Homo sapiens: one gene and its partners. The protein of the gene in region 4 interacts with the protein of the main gene of each other region in a pairwise test. Each region holds a gene or a part of one and is shown on either strand. Other genes may lie near its edges.

The links. Proteins that work in one complex are often made in the same cells at the same time.
Region 1: the proteins of GLP1R (region 4) and LAPTM4A interact in a protein complementation assay, tested with the Homo sapiens proteins (one large-scale study listed by BioGRID).
Region 2: the proteins of GLP1R (region 4) and GABBR2 interact in a protein complementation assay, tested with the Homo sapiens proteins (one study listed by BioGRID).
Region 3: the proteins of GLP1R (region 4) and PAQR6 interact in a protein complementation assay, tested with the Homo sapiens proteins (one study listed by BioGRID).

What each region holds. Positions count from the first base shown.
Region 1 is NC_000002.12:20,041,629-20,045,128, forward strand, and holds part of LAPTM4A (lysosomal-associated transmembrane protein 4A), read right to left. Parts: intron 1-3,500. UniProt on the Homo sapiens protein: May function in the transport of nucleosides and/or nucleoside derivatives between the cytosol and the lumen of an intracellular membrane-bound compartment.
Region 2 is NC_000009.12:98,299,936-98,303,435, reverse strand, and holds part of GABBR2 (gamma-aminobutyric acid type B receptor subunit 2 precursor), read left to right. Parts: intron 1-12; coding exon 13-195; intron 196-3,500. UniProt on the Homo sapiens protein: Component of a heterodimeric G-protein coupled receptor for GABA, formed by GABBR1 and GABBR2. Within the heterodimeric GABA receptor, only GABBR1 seems to bind agonists, while GABBR2 mediates coupling to G proteins.
Region 3 is NC_000001.11:156,245,257-156,249,473, reverse strand, and holds the start of PAQR6 (membrane progestin receptor delta), read left to right. Parts: upstream 1-1,417; 5' UTR 1,418-1,517; exon of another isoform or gene 1,518-1,559; intron 1,560-1,841; exon of another isoform or gene 1,842-1,964; intron 1,965-2,717; 5' UTR 2,718-2,742; coding exon 2,743-2,793; intron 2,794-3,223; coding exon 3,224-3,351; exon of another isoform or gene 3,352-3,486; coding exon 3,487-3,692; intron 3,693-3,812; coding exon 3,813-3,939; intron 3,940-4,217. UniProt on the Homo sapiens protein: Plasma membrane progesterone (P4) receptor coupled to G proteins. Seems to act through a G(s) mediated pathway. Involved in neurosteroid inhibition of apoptosis. May be involved in regulating rapid P4 signaling in the nervous system.
Region 4 is NC_000006.12:39,075,634-39,080,709, forward strand, and holds part of GLP1R (glucagon-like peptide 1 receptor precursor), read left to right. Parts: intron 1-1,896; exon of another isoform or gene 1,897-2,280; intron 2,281-2,688; coding exon 2,689-2,749; exon of another isoform or gene 2,750-2,834; intron 2,835-3,263; exon of another isoform or gene 3,264-3,323; coding exon 3,324-3,393; intron 3,394-3,478; coding exon 3,479-3,567; intron 3,568-3,930; coding exon 3,931-4,069; intron 4,070-5,064; coding exon 5,065-5,076.

The sequences.
Region 1 (3,500 bases), on a different chromosome or scaffold from region 4:
AGGCTCATGTGATCCTCCCACCTCAGCCACCTGGTAGCTGGGATTACAGGTGCCCACGACCATACGCGGGTGATTTTTGTATTTTTAGTAGAGACGGGGTTTCACTATGTTGGCCAGGCTGGTCTCTAATTCCTGACCTCAAGTGATACACCCAGCCCTAGCCTCCCAAAGTGTTGGTATTACAGGCGTGAGCCACCACGCCCGGCCTTAAATCTACCTTTTGAGATAATGTGCTCTCCCTTCTAAATAAGTGCTCCAATACCTGAAAACAGCCTCCAAATACTGTGTTCTCTAGAATAGACATGCAGATCTTTAAGCCATTCCTCTGACTAGCATGTTTCCTAGCTACCTATTTCCCTTTTGTCTTCCTCTTTACACATGCTCCAGTTTGATGGACATATATTAAAATGAGGTAAAGTCACCCTGGTCAGAACATAATGGGATCTCAGTTCTCATATTCTGGCTAACGAATTTCAATTAATGCAACCTGAAGTTGTACTGAGGTTTTTTGTTTTTGTTAGAAACAAGGTCTCACCATATTGCCTAGGCTGGTCTTGAACTCTTGGCCTCAAGTGATCCTCCTGCTTTAGCCTCCCAACATGCTGTGATTACAGGCATGAGCCACCGCACCCAGCCTGCATTGGCTTTACAAATTTTCTGAATATCACATGAGAGTAACTCCCTAAAACACCAAGTTCTTTTTCACACTTGATTGTGCTAAGCTCCCACCTGTACAGTTGGATTCAGAGGCCCAAGCATAGGCCTTAATATACCTGTAATTGAGTTTCATCTTATTACATTCTTGCCTATGAAGATTTTCTGGATGTGGATTCTGACACACTACAGATTTACTGTCTCAACTTCCTGAATTTAGGATCAGCATGTAATCAGTATTTCCATCTAAGTTACTAACAAAAGAGAACAGAGGTGAGGACAAAGCTGCCAGAGGCTGCCCCTTCCCATTAACTAGCAACTTCTGAATAAAATTGTTTAGCTCTTTAGAGGAACAGCCTGCTGAAATCCCATTATAATATCTGAATTTTCCTAGTCTCCCAGGGTTGTAAATCCATTTTAAAAGGAAATGAGTTGTGCCTGTAGTTGTTGGCCAATCCCTGTGGTATCCCAGGAGGCTTCACTGCATTTAAGTACTCAGAAAGAGTATTGTTAACGACTCAAGACAGAAATCTCACGTAGGATTGGAGTTAGGCTTCCTTATCTAGCATAGTAAAGTTCACAGAATTTGCCCTCCTTCCCTTTGTGAAAATGTGAACATCTGGAATTTTCAAGGGTTAAGTTCCTATCAGTAGTATTTTAATTTATTTAGTTTTTGAGATGGAGTCTCGCTCTGTCGCCCAGGCTGGAGTGCAGTAGCGCAATCTCGGCTCACTGCAGCCTCCACCTCCTGGGTTCAAGCGATTCTCCTGCCTCAGTCCCCGGGGTAGCTGGGACTTTTTTTTTTTTTGAGACCAAGCCTTGCTCTGTCACCCAAGCTGGAGTGCAGTGGCGCAATCTCAGCTCACTGCAGCTTCCACCTCTTGGGTTCAAGCAATTCTCACACCTCAGCCTCCCAAGTAGCTGGGACCTTTTTTTTTTTTTTTTTTTTTGAGACCAAGCCTCGCTCTGTCACCCAGGCTGGAGTGCAGTGGCACGATCTCGGCTTACTGCAGCTTCCACCTCTTGGGTTCAGGCCATTCTCACACCTCAGCCTCCCGAGTAGCTGGGACTACAGGCGTGCACCATTCAAGCCTGGCTAATTTTTGTATTTTTAGTAGAGGTGGGGTTTCGCCACGTTGGCCAGGCTGGTCTCAAACTCCTGACCTCAAGTGATCCACCAGCCTTGGCCTCCCAAAGTGCTGGGATTACAGGTGTGAGCCACTGTGTCGGCCAGCTATCGATAGTATTTTAAACAAACTATTATATACTTCTCTCCTGTTTCACCTTGAATGATAAACACACAGGAAATGCATTTTCCTTTTATCAGCTGAAGTCATTTCACTAACATCCGCTAGATAAGCAGATCAAGTTTTATTTTAGGGTAGGTGATCTAAACAATGCCACAATATGAAATTTGGAATCAACCAATATTTATTGAGGATATGCTTTATGACATGTGTATTTACGTGTATTACTTCACTTATTCCTCACAACAACCCGTGAAGTAAGTATTACCAAAGCCTATGTGTAGATGGGGAAACTTAAGATTCAGTAAAGCTATATAACTTGTGTTAAGCTTGCTGAGCTGACAGATGGGAGAATCAGGACACAAGTCTGGTTTTTAAGACATCCTCCTTCTCAGCACTACGTGATTATTAATAAACATTCCCCAGTAACTCCTATTTTAAGGTCTTTCCCAAAGAAACCATTATCTAAGGCTATAAAATGTTTAGACTTTACTGTCTATGTTCAGCAGCAAGCCTCTTTCCTTGCATTGTTCAGAGGCAAGGCATGATATCTTTCAATTCTTGAGAGGACTTACCAGGAACAATCACTTTTGCAAGGTGGCTCTCCCCAGTTGAAAGCTGATTTTTTTTGTTGCCCACATTTGCTGCAATGGGTTTTGGCCAGCGTGTGTGGTGTATGAGTATGAGCTAATACAACTAGGTGAATTAATTACTGAACTATCAGATATATCTACTAAAACGTTATATGTTCTGTGTATGGAAATCAGTTTGAAATCAATTAGGCAAACTCTTCTTTGCTAAACACAGCATAGTCACAGTGAAAAAGCTCTCTGCGGTACAGAAATTCCTTTGTCAAGAAAAGCATGCAAACCCAATTACTAAATGAAGGGAATGACATGCCAAAAACATTTAGGAGTTCTATTTTCCCTTCTTAAATATTTTTATTACATGAAGGATTTCTAAAAATCTCACACCTATAGTCCCAGCTACTTGGGAGGCTGAGGTGGGAAGGATCGCCTGAGCTCTGGAGACCAGCCTAGGCAACAATACTAAGTCTGTCTCTTAAAAAACAAAAGAACTCTTCACTTTTCTTCTCTTCCATGGATAAGTCACACGCTCATCCACTATTATCTTCTTTTAGTACTAGAGACACTTCAAGTTTAATTTCACTGTGGGTCATACCACTAAATATTAAACAAAATAAATCGTAGGGCCAATCAGAAGGACCAAGAAACAGTGAAATAAATTTCAATGCTACTTCATTAAAAGCTTTTTCCAAATCTTCTTTGAGTTAATTATATTCCATTAGATCACATCATTTCATTAGAACCCCAACTTACATCTTAAAGTATTACACTGGAAAACCCATCCTTGTGACTTAAAAAAATTTTTTTTGTAGAGATGGAGTCTCACTATGTTGTCCAGTCTGGTCTTGAACTCCTGGCCTCAAGTGATCCTACTGCATTGGCCTCCTAAAGTGCTAGGATGACAGGCACGAGCCACCGCTCCTGGCATCCTTTGATCTTAAAGATATTCACCAACGAACGCCTACCTTGTGCTCACATGTAAGCCCTGGCAACTTATCTCTGATTAAAGTTG
Region 2 (3,500 bases), on a different chromosome or scaffold from region 4:
TTGTCCTTTCAGCTCATCACCCTGAGAACAAACCCAGATGCAGCAACGCAGAACAGGCGATTCCAGTTCACTCAGAATCAGAAGAAAGAAGATTCTAAAACGTCCACCTCGGTCACCAGTGTGAACCAAGCCAGCACATCCCGCCTGGAGGGCCTACAGTCAGAAAACCATCGCCTGCGAATGAAGATCACAGAGGTACCTCCCTCTGCATCTGGTAGCTGGGCCCTGTCTGCCACTGAAGCCCCTCTAACCCTGTGCGGGGACTCTCAGGCTCCTCTAGACCATCCCTGCAGCATGACCGTGCAGTCTCATCAGCTGCAGTTGCAGCTGCGAGAGCCAGGGGTGACATAAACCACACAGAGGCATTTGTCAGAATCCAACATGAGCTTATTGCCCACCTCACCCAGGCTCTTGGAGGCCAGCAACACCTGATTCAAGCCATCCCCAGACAGAAAGGAACTCAGGGAGATTTGTGAGCTTCTGGATTATCATAGCTTCCTACGTCAGTGTCTCTTTATCTGTGTCTCTCTCCCTCTCAGTTTTTCACTCTCCCAGCACAACCCAGCAACCACCACATCTATGTGATGTACAAGAGAAGAGAAAGTGAAAAGAAACTTTTCAAGAGAGAGTGCTGCAGCAGACCTCGCCTTTGTCCTGAGGGTTCTCAACTGGTTCTTGAATATTCCAGAGAGACCATAGCCAGATTGCCTTGTGCCCAAGCCAGGCTTGGCTTGTAGACCAGGGAAGGGAAAACAAATTACCTCCCCTCCTCTACCCCTCCCTTTGGGTTGGAGGTATGCCTGAACCCGTGCTCTGCAGGCTGTGTGTTGCTTTAATAGAGGAATTCTGATTAGGGAGGGGGACAGGAAAGGGACCAAGGAAAGTACATTGGTTACAATGCTGGCTAAACAAGGCCCCAAAATAAAGTGGCCCAGAGAAAATATGTTTATTTCCCTTTTACCTAATGGCCGTGAAAAGAGAGGGCCCGGTTGGGGCAGCTCTGCTCCCCAAGGTCATTGCTGGGCTTGGTTCCTGCCCTCTGGTTTTCCCCACTCTCCAGGGTGTTCTCTTCATTCATAGCGGGAGAGCTGGGTGGACAGCATGTCCTGTTCACAGTGTCAGGAGGGGAAGAGATAGAAAGTCCACATGAGGGATTGCCTTTTAAGCAGTAACACCAAAAATTGTGCATATTTTGGTTCTGCCCTAGTCACATCAACAAAAACTGACATGAGCACACCTAGTGAGAGGAGAGGCTGGGAAACGTCGTCTCTAGCTGGACAGCTGCAAGGAAGAAGTGAGACATAGGGTTGCCAGATTAGATATGGGATGCCCAGTTAAATTCAGACTTCAGATCAACAACCAATCATATTTTCAGTAAAAGTTTAGCCCAAGTAATACTTGAATATACTTATACTAAAAAAGAACCCATTATCTGAAACTCAAATTTGACTGGACATTCTGGATTTTTATTTGCTAGATCTGGCCGCCCTTTGGGGGGCTCACAGAATTCTGCCACAGAGAGCCACCATACAGTTGTCTGTGCACCTAAAGATGACTGCTTTAGGATGAGGTAACCCACCATCAGCTGCCAGAGCAAACTAAGAAGGGTTTCTGTCCCCCAAAGCCCATTACAGGCTCTGTTTCAATATCAGACCTCTCCTGATGAGTACGACCATGTCACTGCATTTCACTTCTACTTGCACACTTCAGCAATGAAGAGTTCAGTCACATTAGGAAACCCAGGCCACTATTTAAAACTCTTAAATGTTGTGTTATTTTTCCCGGAAATGAATCACAATCTGGCCTCCTGTTGTCCCCACCCTTTGATCCTACTCCTGCCATTTAAGTCACATAGAAAAGAGTATCTCTTTCCCTCCTCCTCCACATGAAAACGTGTTAAACAATTTCATGGCTGTGTTCCTGACATCAGAACAGCCTCTGATAGTTTATCAGGTCTCCTCCCTTATACTACAGCAGGATGCTGTTTGGAAAAATCCTCTAACCATGTTTTTCCTGTGCTCTTGCACCAACACAACAGTCAACGCAGAAGACTTCTGTGACCAAATGTGTGTGGGGTTTTCCCCACCAACGAGCAGCAGGCACCCGCTGGGTGCCTCCAGTTCAAATCCAATGCTACATATCTAGAGATAGCTTCAGATCCCACAGGTTGAGGGCTCAGTCCCCAAGGCTCCCCCTGACCCCCACCCTACCCTCAGATACCAGTCATAAGTCAGGCCTCTGGAACTTCTGACCAGCCAGCTTCAAGTTGGGACTCCCAGGATCCTGCTTTGGGTTGAATTAATTTGCTAGAGGGGCTCACGGAACCCAGGGAAACACATTTACCAGCTTATTACCAAGGACATGAATGAAGAGATGCACAGAGCGAGGACGGGTGAAGGGGTGTGGAGCTTCCCTGCCTCCCTGGGCCCCATGCTCCAGGAACCTTCACGTGTTCAGCTACCCAGAAGATCTTCATACCCTGTTCTTTTGAGTTTTTATGGAGGCTTCATTACACGAGGCATGACTGACAACTGTGTAGAAATGTGATTGGACAAAAATGCATGATCTAAACCCAGCAAGGCCTTTCTGCTCAGAATTTTCTTGGCCTCTCTGTAGCATTCCTTCCTCCAGGGTATGGGGCAAGACTTTCTCTCTGTGATAAAGGTCTTTTGACCTACATCAGATTACAGTCCTGCCTTGAGCAGGTGAGAAAGGACAGGAGAAGGTCAGAGAGAGTGATTCTGTTTCATGAGGCCCGCTCCTGAGGCCTAAAATGCCCCAACATTATAACAAAAGACTCTTACAAGAGATATAGCAGCCAGGAATCATGGATGAAAGCCATTCTATTATACAGATATGGTAATATCACAGATGTTCAACACCCATCCCGACTACCACCCCCAACAACTACCAACACTCATATTGCCCAGGCTTCTCTGGGGCTGAATTGCCCCCAGGACTTGCACCTGATTTTTGTATAACCTGGGAATGGGCCAGGTGCTGTGGCTCACACCTGTAATCCCAACGCTTTGGGAGGACAAAGTGGGAGGATCGCTCGAGCCCAGGAGTTCAAGACCGGCCTGGGCAACATAGAGAAGACTTGTCTCTAAAAATAAAAACGTGGGGATGACTGGGACCCATCCTGATTAACTCCTCTGAGTGAGACCCTGCAGGTCAGAGTCTCCATGATAGTGTGAGGCTCAGAGCTCGCGAGCCCTGCATGTCTGTCCTCCACTGTGGGTCCTATTAAGTATCAGTAATAGTAATTATAAGGCCAGGCACAGTAGTTCATGCCTGTAAACCCAGCACTTTGGGAGGCCAAAGTGGGAGGATTGCTTGAGCTCAGGAGTTCAAGACCAGCCTGAGGAACATAGAGAGACCCCATCTCTACCAAAAAAAAAAAAAATTAGCCAGACATGGTAGCATGCACGTGTAGTCCCAGCTACTCAGGAGGGTGAGACAGGAGGATTGCTTGAGCCTAGGAGATCAAGGTTGCAGTA
Region 3 (4,217 bases), on a different chromosome or scaffold from region 4:
TCAGCTCCTCCCCCTCAGGCTGGGAGGATAGCACAGGCTAGGGGCTCGGGGTGGAGGGTCTCAGCTCTGCTGCCCCCACCCCAGTACTAGCCTAGCTTCCCAAGCTGTGGCTTAGAGGATAGTTGGCTTCCTGCCTCTCTCCTCTAAAATAGCAAGTCTGGGAAATCCTGGGGTGAGTGGAGTCACCCCACTCCCAGTTGCTGGCAGAGACTGAGACTAAAGCATCACTTAATAAACCCCCCAAGCCCAATCCCTGTCTCCTGGTGCCTGTCTGTACAGAAGTTTCATTGGGGGGTGGGGCACTGAAGATGGCATCCTGAAATGCATTTTGGAAAGGCTTCTTTGAAGTGGATGGAACAGAACAAGAAGCAGGCAATTTGAGTGAAGGCCCTGGAGATGGTTTGATAGGCACTGTCAAGTTCCTTGACTGTAAACTGAGGCGGTGCCTTTGCAGGGGTGATAGTGAAAATCTCTTGCCAGCAACATCGCTGCCTGGGGTTGGTTCGCTGTCACTAGCTGGGTCCTCTTCCCCAAGGGGGTGGGGAGGTGAGCCTTGAAACCAGCCTCTGGCCAGGCGTAGTGGCTCACGCCTGTAATCCCAGCACTGGGAGGCTGAGGCGGGTGGATCACAAGGTCAGATCGAGACCATCCTGGCTAACACGGTGAAACCCCATCTCTACTAAAAATACAAAAAAAAATTAGCTGGGCATGGTGGCGGGTGCCTGTAGTCCCAGCTACTCGGGAGGCTGAGGCAGGAGAATGGCGTGAACCCGGGAGGCGAAGCTTGCAGTGAGCCAATATCGCGCCACTGCACTCCAGCTTGGGTGACAGAGCGAGACTCCACCTTAAAAAAAAAAAAAAAAAAACCAGCCTCTGAGTCCTCAAGTGCCTGTCCTGCAAGGATTGGCATCTCAAATTGTATTCGGGGGGGGGGGGGGGGGGAGGGGGAGGTGGTGAGCCTGGTGAATCCCCCATGATAGAACCAACATTTACCAAAGGCAGTTTGCTCTGAGCCCTAGGCAGCACCAGGTGCTAAGAGGCAGCAAAGCATGGTGAGAGATGGCTTCTGAAATCTGTTCTGCATTTGGGGATTTGGGTTCCTCTGCCAGCCTAAGGCAGAGCTGTCCCCAACTGCTGGGAGAACCTGGAACGGGAACACTGCTCTGAGTCGCCGGGGGGACTCTACAGCACCATGGCCACATCCTGCCTTGGGCCCCTACCCTGTTCTAGCCAGTCAGCACAGGGAGTTTGGGTCGTGCTGGAGGAGCTGGCTGTGTGCAGGCGGCCGAGTGAGCTGCCTGCTAATGGGGCTGGGCCACCCCGTGCTGCTCCCTGGAGGCTGGACAAGGCTGGGATTGTTCCCTGGCTCCCCTTTGTCTCCCCACTCCCCGCCCAGGCCTGGCCCGCCTGCCTGGCCACTCTTCCTCCATCAGCCTGGCTGGCAGCAGCCTTGGACTCCGCCCGTGGAGCCCTGGGCCTGTTGACCCACCAGCTTAGGAGCACCCACCAAGCTCTGGGTAAGGAAGCTCACCTTCTGGGGCTCTTCTGGGAAAATAGAGGTAAAGCATCTTGCTCCAGCCACCCCTCCCCCATTTCCATAGCAACTGCACACACTCCACTCCAGAGATCTCCAAACCCTACTACTAAGGGAAGGCACCGTGAGGGCAGCTAGACCCCAGCGTATTCCTCACTCCTCCCCCAGATAGATGGGCAGCACTCAGGGTAGGGGAGACCCCCGACCATCCCACTTGTGGGAGCGAGCAAGGGATACCCTGGGAGGCCCTCATCCATCTTTGTTCTGCTGGGGTGCAGGGACTAGGGCCAGGTTTGCCTTTGCCCAGCAGGGTCTCCAGCACCCATCTCGGGCAGAGGCTGGGGGAGTGACTGCTGGTGCAAGCCCCAAAGTGCATGCGGCAAAAACATGGATGCAGAGCTGGTGGCAAGAAGAGGGGCTAAGTTATAGAGTTGCTGCAAAGTTTTGGCCTGGGGAGGTGGGGGGAGTGTCCTAGTCCTCCTCCTGGGGCGGCTCCGCCTGCCCAGCTGGCCCAGCCCCTCCACTTGTGCCAAGGAATGTGCCGGGAGAGGCGGGCGGGGCAGCAGAGCTGCGGCCACCCGGAGGCAGTGCACAGGTCTGGGGCTGAGGGATACCTGGGCTCAGGAGGGGCAGGGACCCCAAAATTCTCCTGGGGGCACAAGTGTAGTCCTCAGAGAAAAGCCAGGCATCCCCCTACCTCCTTGTCCCACCTGATGGCATCTGGCTTCTCCAGAGATTCGGAGTGCCAAGAGTGTTCTGTGCTCAGTTCAGGCGCTGTGGGCGAAGCACATTCTGGTGGGAAAGGGAGTGGTACTCAGGCTGTCTCTGTGCTGGCCTCCAGGAGTCAGGATTCTTCCTGAGACAAAAACTGGGGCCTGCGGGGCTGGATCACTATTTGAGGCAGCCTCCCGGCTGGGAGGACCCCGCCACTCTTTGCTGGGCTGAGGCCGCCAAGCCCCTCAGTGTGGGGACTGAATGCCCCAAGGAGAACAGGGGTTGGAGTTAAGTGGTGCAAGGGCTGGGGAAGGTGGACCAGCTTCCCCAGGCCTGAAGGAAGCAGCTCCAGGAGGGAGGGTGCCATCTGCCTCCCACACGCACAGCCCATCCTGCGGCTGAACCCAGGTGAAAGGGGCCTGTGGATGGGGGCAGTTATCTGATCCCCTACCTCCCACTCTGTCTCTAGGTCAACGTGGAGGTACCAGGCCACCATGCTCAGTCTCAAGCTGCCCCAACTTCTTCAAGTCCACCAGGTCCCCCGGGTGAGGGGCTCCACCCACTGACCCACCAACCCCCATTCCCTAGAGGACTGACTAGGGGCTGACGTTCTTCTCTTTTAGCTATTGGGGCAGCCCCTCCTGCAGGCGAACTCTTACCCTCCCATTCCAGTGTGAGACTCTTCCTCTGTTCTCTGAGGAACAAGCTTGTGGCCCTCCATCTGGAGTCCCCTTCCCCAGAGCGCCCTGTGTGCTGCGCTCCACCCCCATCCCACCCCAATCTGGCTCTTCGGTTTCCTATTTGTTTTGTGGGTTGTGGGTACTGGGACCTGTGGTAACATCAGATCAGATTTAGTTTGGCTTGGGGGCCACGTTGATCTCCAGCCCAGCCTCTTTGACCCTGCTTCCAGAGATCTCAGATGGAGGGAAAGGGTCCGGGCACAGTGACGCCCTTCCTCTCCCACCACTACCCTAGGTGTTCTGGGAAGATGGCATCATGTCTGGCTACCGCCGCCCCACCAGCTCGGCTTTGGACTGTGTCCTCAGCTCCTTCCAGATGACCAACGAGACGGTCAACATCTGGACTCACTTCCTGCCCACCTGGTGAGGGGAGGCTCCGCCCCAGGCCGCGGCCTTGAGCTCAGAGGGGGTACCCAGGCGGGCAGGGACCGTCCAGGCCCACGGGCTGCAGCGGCAGTCGCGGGGGTCCGCGGCGGCCTGAGCACGCGCCCGCCGCAGGTACTTCCTGTGGCGGCTCCTGGCGCTGGCGGGCGGCCCCGGCTTCCGTGCGGAGCCGTACCACTGGCCGCTGCTGGTCTTCCTGCTGCCCGCCTGCCTCTACCCCTTCGCGTCGTGCTGCGCGCACACCTTCAGCTCCATGTCGCCCCGCATGCGCCACATCTGCTACTTCCTCGACTACGGCGCGCTCAGCCTCTACAGTCTGGGTGAGCCGGACAGGCGCGGGAGCGCGGGGTCTGGGCGTCCCGGAGCGGGGCGAGGGGTGGGACGCGGGACATAGGGGCGCGCCCCTCAGGCCTCAGCTGCACGCCCCCACCTCACCGCAGGCTGCGCCTTCCCCTATGCCGCCTACTCCATGCCGGCCTCCTGGCTGCACGGCCACCTGCACCAGTTCTTTGTGCCTGCCGCCGCACTCAACTCCTTCCTGTGCACCGGCCTCTCCTGCTACTCCCGGTGGGTTCCCAGGCCCCTCCAGTGGGGACGGGGAAGGCGGAGGCACAGGAGAGGACACACCTCACTGCTCTCGAACAGCACTGGAGGCATCGGGACCATGTACTGAGGACTTCCTCTGTCAGACCCTTTATCCCCACATACAGATGTGGTCCTTTACACAGGAGGTCATATGCCCTAACGGTTTTCTTAGCTGCAGGCTGTGCTGATATTCCATCTTTGCCCAAGTCCTCTTGCCTTTCTCTGACCCCTACCCCAAGCACAGCGATGGTGACCGGCCT
Region 4 (5,076 bases):
AGGATTGGGGTGGGGGAGACGGAGAGAGATTCACAGGTTGCTAGGAGCTCAGACGTGATGCCAGGAGGCCTTGCCCAAGCTGGGATACTTGGGAAACAACTTTCAGCTTCATGTGCAAGTGGAAGAATTAAAATTAGGACTCTGACACAGTTGGAGAGGTCCCCCAAAGGGCATGGCAGCTTCTGCTGCAGTCCCCAGGCAGTTGGGGGCCTGTAGAAACCCACATGGAGGCTGTGCAAGAGGGAGGCAAATGATGGTTGAGGGAATCATTACTTCCTGGAGCCAGTTGTGTGTGTCTTAATTTGAGCTTTTTTCTCCAACCTGTCTTGCTCGTTTTCTAAATGGGAGAAAGATGAAGCCAGCAGGGAGTGCGTAATGTTTGCATGCAGCAGGGCTTTCGTGACTGTGTTTTTTGAAAAGGCCTTGTTAAGGAAATGCTGACGATGAGTGAAACTTGCCAGGTCTGGCTGATAACATGGGTGAGTGCCCTGATCCTGGAAGGAGGTCTCAGAGAGAAGGGACAGCAGGGGGCGAGGGATACCCAGAAGGAAGCTTCTGCATGTGTACGTGGTTCAGGAAATCGGCATGCTCTTGCCCAGACAATGTTCCTTCCCTTATTGGTGTGTTGACTCACCCATCATTCGTTCCATTCTCACTGGGCATCTTCTATGTGGCAGGGCCTGTACCATGTGCTGGGGCCTTTGGAGACCATCCCATTCCTTGTCCAGTCTCATAAAGGCCTGTTACTAAAGCACCGTAGATGCTGAGAGGTCCGATTTGTGTAGAAATCAATGGGCCAGGAGAGAGAGAGCTGATGAAGAATGCTGGTCCGCTGGGGGCTCCTTTGCCTCCTCCATCTCTCCCTGCATCATCAGGCACAGTAGATCTGGGCACACAACCTGCTTAGTAGCTGCTGTTGAGTGGACACTGATGTGCTAAAGACATAGACAATGGTGACAGGAAAGGCTATGAAGTGGTTCTGTCCTGGAAATGTGCTCCAGGCAGAGATTCCCAAAGTCATACGTGCACACTCATGGTCCACCCACCACACCCTCACACACACATGTCTACATACCTTAATATGCACATGCTTACCTATCTCAGACACATCTCCAACACTGAGGGAGGGGCCAACGGAGACGAGCATGGAGACAGCCAGTGCAGAAGGCCATTGAGGGCGGTGGGAGTGGGTATGGGATTGCAGCCCTGAATTCGAGCCCCACCTGTGCCCTTCTGAGTCCCTGATCCATCTCCTCATATGTCATGTGAGGAAGGAAAATCCAATTTTAAATCAACCAACACAGACCCTGAGCTCTCAGGGTGATCTGGGCATTGAGGCTCTGAAGGTGAGTGAGGCCCAGGCTCTACCCTCAAGGAACTGGGAACCAGTTGTATTAATTCTCTATTGCTGCAGAACGATTAACCCTGAAACTTAGCTACTTAAAACAACGAACCATTGTTATCTCACAGTTCCTGTGGCCTGCAATCTCGGTTCAACTTAGCTGGGTACCTTGTGGCTCAGGATCTCACAGAGAAAACTCTTTAGGCAAGAGCATGTGGATTTCCTGAATCACATACACATATAGAAACTTCCTTCTTGGGCATCCCCCACCCCCTGCTGTCCCTTCTCTCTGAGACCTCCTTCTAGGATCAGGGCACTCTCAGAGAAGCAGCCAGCTGTCACCAGGGTTGCTGTCATCTCAAGGCTTAACTGGGGATGGAGAATCTACTTCCAAGCTCATTCAAGAGGCAGTTGGCAGGAAGCCGCAGTTGCTGGCCAAAGGCTGGAGGCCTCCATTTCTTGCTGCAGAGACCTCCATCTAGGCCTTCTGAGTTCTCTCAGCACATGGCAACTGGTTTCCCCCAGAGCAAGTGATCAGAGAAAGAGAAAGAGAATGCAAAACAAGCCACAGTGTCTTTTATAACAATCAGAAGTGACATGCCATCACTTCTGCCAGAGGTTCCTGGGTCACATGAAACAATGCTGATACAACGTGGACTAACTACCCAAGGGTATGAGCACAGGAGGTGGGGATCCCTAGGGGCCATCTTAGAGGCTGTCTACTACACAAGTCAAGTCTCAGCCGAGTGGAAAGTAGTATTGTTGTAGCTGTTGTTATTGTAGGCCACTGCGGACAGTTAGTTGGTCAGCTGGCATCAAGGACTGGGCTCCTGTCTCCATTCCAGGATTCTGCCGAGCCCTCTTGAAGGTGCACAGTGGTAGGGAAGAGATGACTGAAAGGACATCCAGTGCCTTTAGGAGTTGACTGGCAACGTGGGCTGAAGCAAGAGAGAAAATGGGCATCAGAGGGTTCGCCTGCTCCTTGCCTCATCCGTCATGCTGTCCCCACCGCATGGCCCAGTCCCGCTGCTGTTTGTGTGTCTGTGGCCTGGTAACTTAGCCGGGACTCTGAGGGCAAGTCCTGACAGTGTGCCTGGCACACAGGAGGTGGGGGACTGATGACTGATGAGGACCTCTCTGTAAGGAAGAGTCTGGGGGTCCGCATGGGGCTCCTGCTGCCTCTGTTCTCCCAGGTGCCCAGAAAAAAACTAGAAAACATAGTTGGAGGCCAGGCAAGGAGAGGGGCTGGAAGTGTGAGGGGCTTGGGGCAGGGAGAGGCCTCGGCATGTAGACTGTGGCTCTGGCCTGCCAGCCCCTCTCCCCTTCTGTCTTTCCCTCTCTCTTAGGTGTTCCCCTGCTGTTTGTTGTCCCCTGGGGCATTGTCAAGTACCTCTATGAGGACGAGGGGTGAGTGTCCTGCTCCAAGGGGGCGGGTGTGCCCAGGTCCCCATCCTCAAGGTCCATGGGATTCCTTGGTACCTGGGGCACCCATCTGTTGAGAGGATAAAGGGGGGTACCAGGAGCTTAGAAGGTGAATTTAGTTCTCTAATCTCCCCTCCCTGCCCCTGCCCCTGCCCCTGCCCCTGTCCCAGGATTGTTTGATGACTAACGGAACTGGGTCTGTGGGGTACATGGTGCCCTCCTGCAGGTTTTTCTGTAATATCTGCAAGTGAAATGTTTGTGTCATTTTGTATATGATGCTGGGTACACACATGACTGTGTTGGTAGGTCCTTGAAAGCTTGTTTGGGGGCTGTGTGCATCTCTGTGTATGACTGTGTATTTGGACTATGCGTGTGTGTTGTGTGGCTGTGCACTGGCAGGGCTCTGTGGGTCCATGGGACTGGTTTTTGGGTGGCTCCTGGGAGCTGTGTGTGTGGCACTCAACATGGCCATGTGCATTGGCGGCCTCTGTGCCTGCACCTGAGCTGGGGGTCCTGTGAGTCCTGCTGGATGCATGTGTGCATCTCTCTCCCTCCCCAGCTGCTGGACCAGGAACTCCAACATGAACTACTGGCTCATTATCCGGCTGCCCATTCTCTTTGCCATTGGGGTGAGTGATGGTGTCAGGGATGGGAGTGGCAGCTATGATAGGGCTGGGCTGGTGCCCCCTGCCAATCCCCGGCCCCACCCCGCAGGTGAACTTCCTCATCTTTGTTCGGGTCATCTGCATCGTGGTATCCAAACTGAAGGCCAATCTCATGTGCAAGACAGACATCAAATGCAGGTGATGTAACTGAGCTGGCTTTACTGAGGACCCTCAGCAAGTGCCCCTTTCCTTCTAGCAGAGAGAGAGAGAGAGATCCTGGGATGCTTAGCTTAGAGCCCTACACTACCCTCTCCTTCCACCCAGGCCTGGCCTTGGACCCCAAACCCTTGCTTTTGCCCTGTCTCTGGGCAGCCCCTGGACTTGTTGGGGTCTTGACCTCTATTCTTTCCCTCCAGGCAGCCTGTCCCAGGGTATTTGGGGTGGGAGAACATCCATGACCCAGATATCAGGACTTGGTAGGAAGTGGGGAGGGTAGAGAAAGGGAAGAAGAGTCCATGGGAGAGGTCCAGAATGACTCGAGATCTCTGCCCTGCCCCTCAGACTTGCCAAGTCCACGCTGACACTCATCCCCCTGCTGGGGACTCATGAGGTCATCTTTGCCTTTGTGATGGACGAGCACGCCCGGGGGACCCTGCGCTTCATCAAGCTGTTTACAGAGCTCTCCTTCACCTCCTTCCAGGTGACTTCATGCTTGGGGACACTTGCTTGTAAAGTCCTAGAGTGGGGGTGGGACAGACACCAGCCTGCATCATGCAGATGGAAAAGGTGGGAAGACTGGGACCTGGAGGGGTGATCCCTGCCCAAAGTCACCTAGTTGGAGCAGAGCCAGAACTAGTATCCCCAGGTGTCCCAATACCTGGGCCAGTCTTCTCTGTAAGCACATGGGACAAGAAGCCTTCCTGGATGTAGCTCTGGGTACCAGCCTGGCATTGCAGCTGCCATCTACTTGGTGGCGAGCACCCTGCCAGGTGCTTTACATGCATTGTGCATTTACTCCTCACAGAACCCAGGAGATGTGCAGGGTTAGCCTCACTTTACAGAGGAGACTCAGAGGTGTTAAAACCAGAGTTACGGTGTCACAGTTTCAAAGAAAAGAACTGATCCTCTCCACTAGCATTAGATGATGCTAAGGGGGTGTAAAAATACAAAAAAACTGGTCCCTGCCTGCCCCTCAAGAGTGTCATGAGATGCCTGCACACATGTGGGCTCATGTGTGTGTATTTACATACATGTGCAGACATACAGAACACAATTCTGGAGCCCTGGGTCTCCTTCATGAACAGATGGGGCTGGAGTGGGGAATATTCTCCATGATCAGAGTCATTGTACTTCACTGGATCAGGCCTCCTCAAGGAGAGGTTGGATGTAGGATCTCTACAGCTTCTGGGCAGCTTCTGAGCAGGGTCTCCTGGACCCCATGGCACATGCCTGGGAGACCCATGGGGAGAGGCTAGCTGGGGCCTGTAGCCAGGCCTAGTCGCAGAGGTGCAACCCTGGTGTTCCTTCAGAAAGGAAATGAGAGGGAAGCCACTGCCCCATTCCTGGATCTGCCTGGGCCGCTGGATTTGGGGAGGGGGTTGTTGAGGATGGAGTCCCAAAGTGCTTCCGACCAGGGCCAGTCTGCAGGGCACCTCCCTCCTGCTTCCTCCCTCTTGATGTGACTCTTGTTTCCAGGGGCTGATGGTG